Linked DNA regions of Homo sapiens. The protein of the gene in region 1 binds, or shares a complex with, the protein of each later gene. Each region holds a gene or a part of one and is shown in the gene's direction. Other genes may lie near its edges.

The links. The genes of interacting proteins can lie anywhere in the genome.
Region 2: the proteins of PEAK3 (region 1) and YWHAE are in contact, whole or in part, in a cryo-EM structure (PDB 8DP5), measured with the Homo sapiens proteins. Residues at the interface, in NP_940934.1 of Homo sapiens: Gln144, Arg147, Arg154, Ser223, Leu224, Ser225, Pro226, His227, Lys293, Phe294, Ala297, Trp298, Pro339, Pro342, Thr460; in NP_006752.1 of Homo sapiens: Asn113 (codon at 303), Thr114 (codon at 306), Gly115 (codon at 309), Lys118 (codon at 318), Tyr122 (codon at 330), Asn147 (codon at 1,008), Ala154 (codon at 1,029), Asp157 (codon at 1,038), Ile158 (codon at 1,041), Met160 (codon at 1,047), Thr161 (codon at 1,050), Glu162 (codon at 1,053), Arg193, Lys196, Ala197, Asp200, Asp201.

What each region holds. Positions count from the first base shown.
Region 1 is NC_000019.10:2,279,149-2,286,748, reverse strand, and holds the start of PEAK3 (protein PEAK3), read left to right. Parts: upstream 1-4,573; 5' UTR 4,574-4,662; intron 4,663-5,813; 5' UTR 5,814-5,817; coding exon 5,818-5,899; intron 5,900-7,600.
Region 2 is NC_000017.11:1,355,197-1,362,238, reverse strand, and holds part of YWHAE (14-3-3 protein epsilon), read left to right. Parts: intron 1-230; coding exon 231-337; intron 338-940; coding exon 941-1,147; intron 1,148-7,042. UniProt on the Homo sapiens protein: Adapter protein implicated in the regulation of a large spectrum of both general and specialized signaling pathways. Binds to a large number of partners, usually by recognition of a phosphoserine or phosphothreonine motif.

The sequences.
Region 1 (7,600 bases):
TGGTCTGTCGGGGAGTCTGGGTGCTGCTGACAGGGTCCCATGTCTGCCCTGCCTGTCTCTGAGGGCTCCGAGAAAAGCCAGGGAGTCTTGGCTTTGGAAGTGAGACTAATAAAGTGCTTTAGCCCCACCCCAGTCCTCACTGACAGATGGGGAAATTGAGGCACAGAGCGGCAACAGATGGAGAAACCGAGGCACGGAGCGGTGACAGGTGGGGAAACTGAGGCACAGTGGGCATGAAGTCTCAAACCCCACCCGCCCGGGAAGGCACAGGGAGAAGCTTGTGCTTTTTCAGGATGGAAGTGGACGGAACTAGGATGCAGAAGACCCGGCCAAGAGCAGTCTCCCACTCGCCACAGCCCAGTGTCACTCTCTGGGCCTCGGTTCCCCCATTTGAACCTGGGACTAAGGTTCCTTTATTTCCCTGCCCTTCGGGGGCAGAACAGAGGCCTGTCAGGGACTGTGAGGCGGCCCTCTCTCCATGCCTGGTTTCAAGGCAGCTGGAGGGTGAGGGGGGCTCTAAGCTGTGGGACTCTCCCGTGGGGACTGATTTCCCGTTCTCTCCTACAGCAAAGGCAGGTGAAACTATTGTCCTGTAGGCCTCAGAGTCCCCGTCCAGGAGAGCCGCCTCTTCCCTGTGCAATGCTCTGAGTGCCTGACATGAACCAGGTGCAACCTCCAAGGTTTCCATGAACCCTGACTCATTTATGGGGTGCACTCGGGGGAGGGCAGGGGAGACCCCAGCTGAGAGGCCCTCCCTGCTCAGGCAGCCAAGACCCAGCTAAAGTAACACCCATCTCCTTGGTGGCTGGAAACCTAAGAGGGGACCCCTAAAACCAGGACCAGACCAAGCCATCCTCACGCCCCATGTCTGGGTGGCTTCTGACCAAGCCTGACTTGACTTCCCCTCCCAGACGGAGCTAGGACAGCACTCGGGGTGCCCCAGCCCATGCCGGCACCCTCGTGGATCTCTCACCCCCATCTTCTGGACAGGGACACGCGTTTGGGGTGTCTCTCTCTCTCCCACATCCCCCGACAAGCCGGCATCTTTTCCAGGTGATTCCTGAGCCCTGCGTATGAACTTCCTCCTGTTTTCCTCCACAAGACAGAGGCACAATTCCCACATGTGAGCTTTTGCTTGTGGAGCCAAGGGAAGCTGGAGGCTCAGGTCTCCGGCTTCCATTGCTGTGTGGCCTGGGGCAAGTCACTGCCCCTCTCTGTGCCTCGGTTTGTTTGTCTGTAATTTGGAAGCTAATAGTCCTGCAATAGGCTGGGCATGGTGGCTCACGTCTGTAATCCCAGCACTTTGGGAGGCCGAGGCGGGTGGATCACCTGTGGTCAGGAGTTCGAGACCAGCCTCGCCAACATGGCGAAACCCCATCTTTTCGAAAATACAAAAATTTGCTGGGCGTGGTGGCGGCCACCTGTAATCCCAGCTACTCAGGGGGCTGAGGCAGGAGAATCGCTTGAACCGGGGAGGGGAAGGTTACAGTGAGCCGAGATCGCACCACTGAACTCCAGCCTGGCTACAGAGTGAGACCCTGTCTCAAACAAACAAAACACAGGCATTTTTCTCCAAAAGGCCGATGTCATGTAAAAATCCATCAGCATACGGCATCCCTGCCCTGCCCCGTACTGGGTGATGCTGGGGATCCAGAGAAAATGTGGCCCCAGCTCCCATGGCTCAATAAGGGCTTCTCAAATGAAAGGACAGCTGTAGGATCTGGAGGGGCCTGATCCAGAGGCCACACCACGCTACCAACATTTTTTTTTTTTTTGAAGACAGAGTTTCACCCAGGCTGGAGTGCACGATCTCAGCTCACTGCAACCTCTGCCTCCCGGGTTCAAGCGATTCTCCTGCCTCAGCCTCCCGAGTAACTGGGATTACAGGTGCAGGCTACCATGCCTGGCTAATTTTGTGTTTTTAGTAGAGACGGGGTTTCACCATCTTGGCTAGGATGGTCTCGATCTCCCGACCTCAGGTGATCTGCCTGCCTCAGCCTCCCAAAGTGCTGGGATTACAGGCATGAGCCACTACGCCCAGCCTTTTTTTTTTTTTTTTTAAACGGAGTCTTGCTCTGTCACCCAGGCTGGAGTGCAGTGGTGCAATCTCATCTCACTGCAACCTCCGCCTCCCGGGTTCAAGCGATTCTCCTGCCTCAGCCTCCAGAGTAGCTGGGATCACAGGCACCCACCTCCATGCCCGAATAATTTTTTTTTTTTTTTTGTATTTTTAGTAGAGATGGGGTTTCAGCATGTTGGCCAGGCTGGTCTCAAACTCCTGACCTCAGGTGATCCACCAGCCTCAGCCTCCCAAAGGGCTGGGATTACAGGCATGAGCCACCACACCTGGCCTATCAATATTTTAAATAAAGACAGGATCTGATCTGCACTTGTTTAACCCTGCTTCTCTTTGCCTTACCCTGCTCCTCCACCCGGGTTCCAATAAAACTTTATTGACAAAAACAGAGGCTCGGCCCATAGTTTGCCGGTTAGGTTTTGTGAAACATTCAGTAAAATGATGTTTATCTTGATTACTGAGGTGCATGTTTGTCTGTTTTTGCATTGTTTTATTATTTATTATTGATTTATTTTTGTGATAGGGTCTCACTCTGTTGCCCAGGCTGGAGTTCAGTGTTATGATCATAGCTCCCTGCAGCCTCGACCTCCTGGACTCAAGCAATGCCCCCACCTCAGCCTTCTGAGTAGCTGGGACCACAGGCACACGCCACTGTGCCAGGCTCATGTTTTATTTTTTGTAGAGATGGGGTCTCACTGTGTTGCCCAGGATGGTACCAAACTCCTGGGCTCAAGTGATCCACCCACCTCAGCCTCTCAAAGTGCTGGGATTACAGGCATGTGCCCAGCCTTTGCATCATTTTAAACTCTGTGGCGGGCGCAGTGGCTCACGCCTGTAATCCCAGCATTTTGGGAGGCTGAGGCGGGCAGGTCACCTGAGGTCAGGAGTTCGAGACCAGGCTGGCCAACACGGTGAAACCCCAACTCTACTAAAAATAATAATAATAATACAAAAATTAGCCAGGTGTGGTGGTGCACGCCTGTAGTACCAGCTACTTGGGAGCCTGAGGCAGGAGAATTGCTTGAACCCGGGAGGCGGAGGTTGCAGTCAGCCAAGATTGCGCCACTGCACTGCAGCCTGGACAACAGAGTGAGACTCCATCTCAAAAATAAATAAATAAAATAAAAATTAACCAGGCATGGTGGTGCACACCAGTGGTCCCAGCTACTCAGGAGGCTGAGGTGGGAGAATCACTTGAGCCCAGGAGGCGGAGGCTGCAGTGAGCTATGATCACACCACGGCACTCCAGCCTAGGGGACGGAGCTAGACCCTGCCTCAAAGAAAAAAAAGTGTGGCATGGGACCCACTCAAGGGAAGTTCATAAGAAAAATGTAGTCTCCTTCCCCTCCTGCCCCTTCTCAGGGGATTGGGGGAGGCCAGGGGGACTCAGCAGTGGCTCTGTGGACCTCTGCTCCCAGCCTCGAGCTGCTGCGTGACCCTGGATGGAGCCCCTACTCTTTCTGGGCCCATTTTCCCTAAGGGAAACGGGATCGGGGATCCCACATAAAATACACTCAATCCTTGCAGCAAAAACATCTTTGGGGCCGGGCAGGGTGGCTCACACCTGTGATCCTAGCACTTTGGGAGGCCGAGGAGGGAGGATCGCCCCAGGAGCTCGTTCCAGGCTGCAGTGAGCTGGGATTGCACCACTGCGCTCCAGCCTGGGCAACAGTGTGAGACCCTGTCTCCAAAGAAAAAGACAGTTTTGACAGGCACGCAGTTCAGCTGGAATTTCACCCCGCGTCTGCTTTTCCTTGGGTTTTTTCCATTCTTGATTTTTCCATTTATGGTGATTTTATCTAAAACGTCTTTTCTAAATAAATGCATCGAGGCAGTGAGGAAGGGGGAAGGGGGAAAACGAGCCGATTCCATCTTTTCAAAGAAAAATCCAGCAGGCGTGGCTGTTAGCAGGCGGGATGTGGGAGCCACTCTTCTTTCTTCGCCGGAGCACGGAGAGGGTGGGGATTTGCCCGCAGTCACACAGCGAGGCGCGGCAGAGCCGGGAGGGTCCTCGCCCACGCTCCACATTCGGGGGCCCTGGGATGGGGCAGGGGGCCGCTGGGGGCTCCTCAGATGCTGCCGCAGGAGGGGAGGTGGTTCCCGGGGAAGTGAAACCCACAGACCCCACTTGCACCTTCTCCAGGGACAGCCGCCACCGTGTTCTGTGCGCTCCCCTACGGTGGGCCAGCTCTGCCCCTCTCTCCCCATCTCACAGGGCTCCCCACTGCCCCGCACCCCAGCCTGGCCTCTGAGGCTGTGGGGGGCCTTCCACTGCCCCCACCCGGCTGTCAGCCCTGGGGCTATTGACTTTCAGATCCCACCTCCTGGTCTCTGTCCAGGCTGTTCCCTCCCGGTTACATCCTGTCCTCTGCGGGCGGGCAGGGGAGGCGGCGGCCTCGGCTGCTGGGGAAGTGTTGCAGAAATGTCCCCTCCCCACCCCGGGCTGCGGTCTGACAGTGGGCCGGACGTTTTCCTGTCAGCTGCCGGCGCCAGGTCAGACCCCTCCTGCGAGGCCAGGGGCTGTGGCCATTGGGAGTTTGTCCCCACGGACCCCTCCTCCCCCAGAGGGCACGCCAGTCTTGAAGGTAGGGGGCTCCTGGAGCGGGGAGCTGGACAGAAGCGGCCACTTTTTGAGGTTGGGATCTGGGCGGGGGTGGGTCGAGGCCTGGCTGCCGGCAGCAACCGCACGGCTGAGCCCTCGGGGATGAGGCCTGAGTGTGGATCCCTGGGTCCCTGGACACTGTCTCCCCCGCAACTGACCCCCAAAGGCCTGTCCTCAGGCTGAACACTCTGTCCCCATCCCAAACGTGCAGAGGGGGGTCCTTCCCACTGCCTGGAAAATTGATGGGTGACAGACCTGCCTCATGATTGAGGAAGTGGGCCCAGAGAGGGCAGGAAACCCACTCGGGATCACACAGCAGGGCCCCAGAGAGGGCAGGAAACCCACTCAGAATCACACAGCAGGGGCCCAGAGAGAGTAGGAAACCCACTCGGGATCACACAGCAGGGCCCCAGAGAGGGCAGGAAACCCACTCGGGATCACACAGCAGGGCCCCAGAGAGGGCAGGAAACCCACTCGGGATCACACATCAGGGGCCCAGAGAGGGCAGCAAACCCACTCAGGATCACACAGCAGGGCCCCAGAGAGGGCAGCAAACCCACTCAGAATCACACAGCAGGGGCCCAGAGAGAGTAGGAAACCCACTCGGGATCACACAGCAGGGCCCCAGAGAGGGCAGGAAACCCACTCAGAATCACACAGCAGGGGCCCAGAGAGAGTAGGAAACCCACTCGGGATCACACAGCAGGGCCCCAGAGAGGGCAGGAAACCCACTCGGGATCACACATCAGGGGCCCAGAGAGGGCAGCAAACCCACTCAGGATCACACAGCAGGGCCCCAGAGAGGGCAGCAAACCCACTCAGAATCACACAGCAGGGGCCCAGAGAGAGTAGGAAACCCACTCGGGATCACACAGCAGGGGCCCAGAGAGGACAGGAAACCCACTCGGGATCACACAGCAGGGGCCCAGAGAGGACAGGAAACCCACTCGGGATCACACAGCAGGGTCAAAACTGGACAAGGGAGTGGAGTGTGGGTGCGCCTGTTCTCACCAAGGGCCCTGGAGCAGGAGGCCTCGACGGTCTCCCAGGCCCCAGCACTCACGGACCCCTCCCCATGTCGCCCTGTGCGTGCACACGGTCACCCCACACACGCCCCGTTTGACCTTTCCCCAGCAACATGAGCAGCCCGGAGCCCCCCACAGAGCCCCCCGAGCCCGACAACCCCACCTGGTCGACTCAGCCCACGTATAGCAACCTTGGTAAGCAGCTCCCCAGGGAGCCCTGGGCTGCGGGGGTGCAGGGAGCGGCAGGGGGGTGCAGGGAGCGGCAGGTGGGTGCAGGGAGCGGCAGGAGGTTGCCGGGCACCATGGCCTCTGGGAACAGCAGCAGCTGGTAAAATGAGTGACCTCCGGGAAGGCCCGGAGTAGGCCAGGGCTGAAAAATAACCTGTGGGTTGGTGGGCGGGGCGTGGTGGCTCACGCCTGTAATCCCAGCACCTTGGGAGGCTGAGGCAGGTGGATCCCTTGAGGCCAGGAGTTCAAGACCGGCCTGGGCAATATAATGAGACCCGCCCCCCATCTCTACAAAACAAAAAAAATGAGATGGACATGGTGTCAAGAGCCTGCAGTCCCAGCTGCTCGGGAAGCTGAGGTGGGAGGATCCCTTGAGCCCAGGAGGTCAAGGCTGCAGTGAGCCATGAAATAGAAAAAAATATATACCATTAAAAAGAGAGAGAGGCTGGGCACGGTAACTCATGCCTGTAATCCCACCCTTTAATCCCAGCACTTTGGGAGGCCAAGGAGGAGGATCACTTGAGGCCAGGAGTTCAAGACCAGCCTGGCCAACATGGCAAAACCTGTCTCTGCTAAAAATACAAAAATTAGCCAGACATGGTGGTGCATGCCTGTAATTCCAGCTACTCGGGAGGCTGAGGCAGGAGAATCGCTTGAACCTGTGAGGCAGAGGGTGCAGTGAGCCAAGACTGAGCCACCGCACTCCAGCCTGGGCGACAGAGGGAGACTCCATCTCAAAAAAAAAAAAAAAAAAAAAAAAAAAGGCCAGGTGCAATGGTTCAAGCCTGTAATCCCAGCACTTTGGGAGGCCGAGTCAGGCAGATCACCTGAGGTCAGGAGTTTGAAACCAGCCTGGCTAACATGGTGAAACCCCATCTCTACTAAAAATACAAAAATTAGCTGGGCATAGTGGCGGGCGGGCACCTGTAGTCCCAGCTACTTGGGAGGCTGAGGTAGGAGAATCGCTTGAACCTAGGAGGCGGAGGTTGCAGTGAGCCGAGATCGTGCCACTGCACTCCAGGCTGGGCGACAGAGCAAGACTTCAAAAAAGAAAAAAAGCAAGACAGACGCTTGTGCAAAGCCACGGAGGTAAGTGGGAGTCGCTGAGTGCTGGGTGGCATCACTCTCTGAAACTGATCCATCCTCCTATAAGCCTCAGTTTCCCCTTCTGTAAGCTCTGCCGCCCAGGCTGGAGTGCAGTGGCACAATCTCGGTTCACTGCAAGCTCCACTTCTCAAGTTCACACAATTTTCCTGCCTCAGCCTCCCGAGTAGCTGGGACCACAGGCGCCCACCACCAAGCCCGGCTAATTTTTTGTATTTTTAGTAAAGACGGGGTTTCACCGTGTTAGCCAGGATGGTCTCGATCTCCTGACCTCGTGATCCACCCATCTCGGCCTCCCAAAGTGCTGGAATTACAGGCATGAGCCATTGTGCATGGCCGCGTCCGGCAAATTTTTAAAAAATTTTTGCAGAGACAGGGTCTCACTATGTTGCCCAGGCTGGTCTCAAACCCTAGGTTCCAGTGATCCTCCTGCCTCGGCTTCCACCTTCCTAAGTGCTGGGATTACAAGCATGAGCCACCGGCGCCCAGCCTCATTACTTCCATGTTAGAGATGGGGAAACCGAGGCTGAGAGGTGGAGTCACGTGTCCCGTTCCCACTCCGCC
Region 2 (7,042 bases), on another chromosome or scaffold:
TGCATGTGTGTGTGTAACAATAGGCAGCATGCAGAAGGGAAAAGATACTTTTTATAACCTAGAGGCAGCTTTTCTCTGCTTTTGTGTCAAGAAGGAAGAAGGGAGTTTGGAGAGGGATACAAATTCTTTTTAATACTAAGCTCTCTACCTCAAAACCAGAGATAGAATATGTAATAATTTGTAGAATTTCTAGACTTAATCTGATTTAAAAAAAATTTTTTTTTTTTTAGGTTGAGACTGAGCTAAAGTTAATCTGTTGTGACATTCTGGATGTACTGGACAAACACCTCATTCCAGCAGCTAACACTGGCGAGTCCAAGGTTTTCTATTATAAAATGTAGGTTCTATACTAGAAGGGAAAATGTAAGATTGAAAGTTGGTCCTTTTAGAACCATAACTTTGTTCTATGTAGGTTTTCAACTTTTATTTAAGAATAATTGTTCAATGTTAGAAGGATAGTTAATATTGTAATGAAAAGGTGGTTGGGCTATTATGAAAATGTATTAGCTTTTGCTTATTTATATTCTTTTGTTTTTGTGAGACCTATCCCATTCCCCTCCCCCAAACGGCATACATTTCACAGTGCTTAGTGTTATATATAGACATTTTATTTTATGATTAATAAACTGTCATGCCATTCCTTGGAACCACTTGCTTGTTTAATTCTGGTCTATCAGGTGATAATTTTATTAATTTTTAGAGGCTCCTCAGTTAATTTCCTGGGATTTTTGCTTATATTTAGTAATATGAAATGTCTAAGGAAAAAAATGAAACGAAGCCAGTTATTCCTGAGAGTGTTTAAAATTATTGAAGTACACCTAATTGTTACATATATTTTTGTCACATTTTATATAATATAGAACAATTTTAGCTTATTTTCCTTTAAAAATCGTTCCTAGTTTAAATTTTTTTTTTTTTTTTAATTTTGGTTTTGTTTTAGGAAAGGGGACTACCACAGGTATCTGGCAGAATTTGCCACAGGAAACGACAGGAAGGAGGCTGCGGAGAACAGCCTAGTGGCTTATAAAGCTGCTAGTGATATTGCAATGACAGAACTTCCACCAACGCATCCTATTCGCTTAGGTCTTGCTCTCAATTTTTCCGTATTCTACTACGAAATTCTTAATTCCCCTGACCGTGCCTGCAGGTAAGTTGTGGGGAAGAACAGCAGCGCTCAGCGTGAAAGTTAAGGGGGGCGCTGTTTGGGTTTTCCGTGTTGTTTCTTGGGCCTGTCTTTGTAGACTTGGCTGCATAGTAATTCTTTTGGCTCTTACTGAAACTACTTTGGATAGTATTAAAACAGACCTGTCTCAACCCACTAGCATAGCAGTCAGCATAATTATTTTGATGTGGGATATTTTTGTTGCTGGTAGATTGAAATCTAACATGTTAAAATGAGTAGAGGAAGGAAATGAGAGGAATTAGAATTATTTTAATTTTTGTTATATTAGTTTTCAGTCTTTTTTTAAATTTGAGACCATGTCTCACTCTGTCTCCCAGGCTAGAGTGCAGTGGCGCCATCTCAGATCACTGCAGCCTTCACCTCCTGGGTTCAAGTGATTCTCCTGTCTCAGCCTCCTGAGTAACTGGAGTTACAGGGGCCTGCCACCATGCCCAACTAATTTTTTTTGTATTTTTAGTAGAGACGGTGTTTTCACCATTTTGGCTAGGCTGGTCTGGAACTCCTGACCTCAAGTGATCCGCCCGCCTTCGCCTCCCAAAGTGCTGAGATTACAAGCATGAGTCACCACACCCAGCCAGTGTTCTGTTTCTATGGGCATGTTTTTAATAGTTACTCTCGTAGCAAACATAATTTTATATTTTCTGTTTTAGCATAAACAAGTTTCAGTCTTACTAATGTGTGTTAAACTGTTCCCCCATTTATACTTCAGCTTGTTCCCAGTTTTTGATAATGTAGATAAATATGTAAGGAATATTTATACGTACATAACTTTTTACTTTTAAAAAGTTGTGATAGCCTGGGTGCAGTGGCTCACGCCTGTAATCCCAGCACTTTGGGAGGCTGAGGTGGGTGGGTCACCTGAGATCAGGAGTTCGATACCAACCTGACCAACATGGTGAAACTCTGTCTCTATTAAAAATACAAAATTAGCCGGGTGTGGTGGTGCATGCCTGCAATCCCAGTTACTCGGGAGGCTGAGACAGGAGAATTGTTTGAACCCAGGAGGCAGAGGTTGCGGTGAGCCTCGATTGCACCAGTACACTGTAGCCTGGGTGACACAGTGAGACTTTTTTTCAAATCTCTCTCTCTCTCTCTCCCCCTCTCTCCCCCCCTCCCCCTCCTCCCCCCCTCCCCCTCCCCGTCTCCCTCTCTCTCCCCGTCTCCCTCTCCCTCTCGCCTGGGCGACAAAGCGAGACTTTTACACACACACACACACACACACACACACACACACACACACACAACAATTTAGTGGCACCGAATACATTGACAGTGTTGTGTAATCACCACTATTTGAAAACTTTCTCTTCACCCCACACAAAGCGAATTATAGCCATTAAACAATCAATAACTTCATTTCCCCTCTCCCTAGCTGCTAGTAACTTTTATTTTACGTTGTCACTATGAATTTGGCCCATTCTAGATACCTCATGTAAGTGGGATCATATAATATTTGTCCTTTTGTGGCTGTCTTTATTTCATCTAGCGTAATGTTTTTATCCATGTAAAAGCATGGATCAGAGCTTCAGTCCTTTTAGTGACTGAATTTACACAATTCATTTTATGTATTTTGCACACATTGTTTAGTCATTAAACTTTTGGTGGTCAGTGGGTTTCCACCTTTTCCCTATGGTGAGTACAATGCTGCTATGAAAATGGGTGCACTAAGTATTTGCTTGAGTCCTTGTATTTAACTTCACCTTGAGGTGGAATTGGGACTGAAAATTCTGTGGGTAACTTTTTTTTCCGGACAGGATCTTGTTCTGTCTCTGCAGTTGTGCACTCATAGCTCACTGCAGCCTTGGCTTCCTGGGCTCAGCCGATTCGCCTACCTGAGCCTTCCAAGTAGCTGTCACTAGAGGTGGATGCCACCATACCTGGCCTTTTCTTTTCCTTTTTTTTTTCTTTTTTCTTTTTTTTGAGGGAGAGCCTGGCACTGTCACCCAGGCTGGAGTGCAGTGGCGTGATCTTGGCCCACTGCAACCTCTGCCTTCCAGGTTCAAGCGATTCTCCTGCCTCAGCATCCAAAGTAGCTGGGATTATAGGCGCCTGCCACCATGCCTGGCTAATTTTTTGTATTTTTAGTAGGGATGGGGTTTCACAGTGTTGGCCAGGCTAGTCTCGAACTCCTGACCTCGTGTGATCTGCCCGCCTCGGCCTCCCAAAGTTCTGGGATTACAGGTGTGAGCCACTGTGCTTGGCCAGCCCTTTTTTTTTTTTTTTTTTAAGATGGAGTCTCGCTCTGCTGGCCAGGCTGGAGTACAGTGGTGCGATCGCAGCTCACTGCAACCTCCACCTCCCAGATTCAAGCGATTCTGGTGCTTCAGCCTCTCAAGTAGCTGGGATTACAGGCATGTGCCACCATGCTTGGCTAATTTTTGGGGGCATTTTTAGTAGAGACGAGGTTTCACTATCTTGGTTAGGCTGGTCTCAAACTCCTGACCTCAGCCTCCCTCCCAAAGTGCTGGGATTACAGGCATGAGCCACTGCGCCCGGCCAATTTTTAAATTTTTTTTGGGCTGCGTGCAGTGGCTCACGCCTGTAATCCCAGCACTTTGGGAGGCCGAGGAGGGCAGATCACGAGGTCAGGAGATCGAGACCATCGTGGCTAACGTGGTGAAACCCCGTCTCTACTAAAAATACAAAAAATCAGCCGGGCGTGGTGGCGGGCGCCTGTAGTCCCAGCTACTCGGGAGGCTGAGGCAGGAGAATGGCGTGAACCTGGGAGGCGGAACTTGCAGTGAGCCAAGATCACGCCACTGCACTCCAGCCTGGGCGACAGAGCGAGACTCCGTCTCAAAAAAAAAATTTTTTTTTGTTGTTTTGTTTTGTAGAGGCAGGGTCTGGCTGTGTTGCCGAAGCTGGTCTTGAAATCCTGGCCTCAAGTAATCCTCTTGCCTTAGCCTCCCAAAATGCTGAGAATACAGGCCTGAGCCACTGCACCAGGCCCTTTTGCCCATTTTTGAATTCATGTTTTTTTCGTTTGTTAAGTGTTGAGAGTTCATTATTCCAGATAGTAACCTCTTAGCAAGTAAATGGTTTGTGAGTATTTTCTCCTCTTCTGTAGGTTGGCATTTTGTTGTTGTTGTTGTTTTTTGCTATTGTCTTTTTCTTTTTTTTTTTCCCCCGAGAGGAGAGTCTCGCTGTGTTTCCCAGGCTGGAGTGCAGTGGTGCAATCTCAGCTCACTGCAACCTCTGCCTCCCGGTTTCAAGCGATTCTCCTGCTTCAGCCTCCCAGGTAGCTGGGATTACAGACGCCCGCCACCATACCCAGCTAATTTTTGTATTTTTATGTAGAGATGGGTTTTCACAGTGTTGGCCAGGCTGGTCTTGGACACCTCACCTTAAGTGATCCAGCCACCTCGGCCTCCCAAAGTGCCGAGATTACAGGCGTGAGCCACTGCACCCAGCCTATTTTAAATTTTTACAGTAAATATTGCAGTAGCAAAATGGTTTTTTTGCTTTTTTTTTTTATTTTGACGGAGTCTCACTCTGCTGCTGTGGCTGGAGTACAGTGGCGTGATCTCAGCTCACTGAAAGCTCAGCCTCCTGGGTTCAGGCGATTCTCTCGCCTCAGCCTCCCAAGTAGCTGGTACTACAGGCACCCGCCACCACGCCCGGTTAATTTTTTGTATTTTTTTTTTTTTTTTTTTGAGACGGAGTCTCGCTATGTCCCCCAGGCTGGAGTGCAGTAGCGCGATCTCGGCTCACTGCAAGCTCTGCCTCCCGGGTTCACGCCATTCTCCTGCCTCAGCCTCCCGAGTAGCTGGGACTACAGGCGCCCGCCACCACGCCCGGCTAATTTTTGGTATTTTTAGTAGAGATGGGGTTTCACCGTGTTAGCCAGGATGGTCTCGATCTCCTGACCTCGTGATCCACCCGCCTCGGCCTCCCAAAGTGCTGGGATTACAGGTGTGAGCCACCGCGCCCGGCCTATTTTTTGTATTTTTAATAGAGATGGGGTTTCCCTGTGTTAGCCAGGATGGTCTCGATCTCCTGACCTCGTGATCTGCCCTCCTCGGCCTCCCAAAGTGCTGGGATTACAGGCGTGAGCCACCGCGCCCGGCCCCTTTTGGTTTTTGTATGTGTTTTTTTTTGGTTTGTTTGAGGACAACTGCTTAAGCAAAGTAGGGTTTTTAAGTGAAAGCCTTTCAAAGTTTGAGGAAAGGGGATTAACTGATACATTGGAACTTTAATGTTGACTATTATAGGCATGCTTCACTGCGCTTGACTGAATTTTTTTTTTTTTTTGCATTTTTAGTAGAGACAGGTTTTCACCATCTTGGTCAGGCTGGTCTCGAACTCCTGACCTCAGGTGATCCACCTGCCTCAGCCTCCCAGAGTGCTGGGATTACAGGCGTGAGCCACTGCGCCCAGCCAATGTAAAAACATTCTAAATGGCTAGTTGAGTTTGTCCAGATAGGGATCGTAACTGAAGAAGCTGTGGCTATTTAGCTAATACTGGTGGTTGCACCTTTCCTTGTCAGACTCCAGTCTAGCTGTCCCACGTGTAGCTCCAGTTTAAAGTCACTCGCATGCCTTTGCTCATGCTTCTGCTTAAACCTGAAGTGTGTTTTGTTTTCTCCTTATCCATTGAGATTAGTTCAAATTTGACTTTCCCTTTAATTGCTCCTCCTTCTGGGTCCCTGAAATACTTTATTTGGAATAGCACTTCATTCTTCTTCTTCTTTTGTTTTTGTGCTCTCTTGCCCAGGCTGGAGTGCATTGGCACAGTTTCACCTCACTGCAACCTCCGCCTCCCAGGTTCAAGGGATTCTTCTGCCTCAGCCTCCTGAGTAGCTGGGATTACAGGCATACGCCACCATGCCCGGCTAATTTTGTGTGTGTGTGTGTGTGTGTGTGTGTGTGTGTGTGTGTGTGTGTTTTTAGACGGAGTCTTGCTCTGTTGCCCAGGCTGGACTGCAGTGGCGTGATCTCGGCTCACTGCAGGCTCCGCCTCCTGGGTTCACACCATTCTCCTGCCTCATCCTCCCAAGTAGCTGGGACTACAGGCACCTGCCACTGCTCCCGGCTAATTTTTTTGTATTTTTAGTAGAGACGGGGTTTCACTGTGTTAGCCAGGATGGTCTCGATCTCCTAACCACGTGATCCGCCCGCTTCTGCCTCCCAAAGTGCTGGGATTACAGGCTTGAGCCACTGCACCCGGCCTAATTTTTTGTGTTTTTAATAGGTTTTGCCATGGTGGCCCGGCTGGTCTTGAACTCCTGGCCTCAAGTGATCTGCGCGCACGCATCAGCCACCCAAAGTGTGCTGATTACAGGCATGAGCCACCACAGCCAGCCTCCTCCTTGTAAAATAGTTATGTATTTGTCTACCCTCCATTTCTAAATTTTTAAGTTGATGTGGACTTAGATTATGTCTCTTTTTTTTCTATTGGTATATCGTATCGTTTGTTGGACATAGTACACAGTACTCAGTAAGTGTGGATTTTCTTTTAAAACTGTAAATGGCTTACATAATCACATTTCCATGGCGTCTGTGTTGCCTTTTATTTTCTTTGCTTCCCTGCCTCCATTAACGTGAAATTAAATTTTTTTAAACTTTGAGGTATTGTCCAAGATTTTCTTTTTGCATTAATACTTTGTTAAATATCTCAACCTTGTAATCCAGCACTTTGGGAGGCTGAGGCGGGCACATCACGAGGTCAGAAGATCAAGACCATCCTGGCTAACACGGTGAAACCCTGCCTCTGCTAAAAATATAAAAACAAATCAGCCGGGTGTGGTGGCGGGCGCCTGTAGTCCCGGCTACTCGGGAGGCTGAGGCAGGATAATGGTGTGAACCCAGGAGGCGGAGCTTGCATTTAGCCTACATCCCGCCACTGCACTCCAGCCTGGG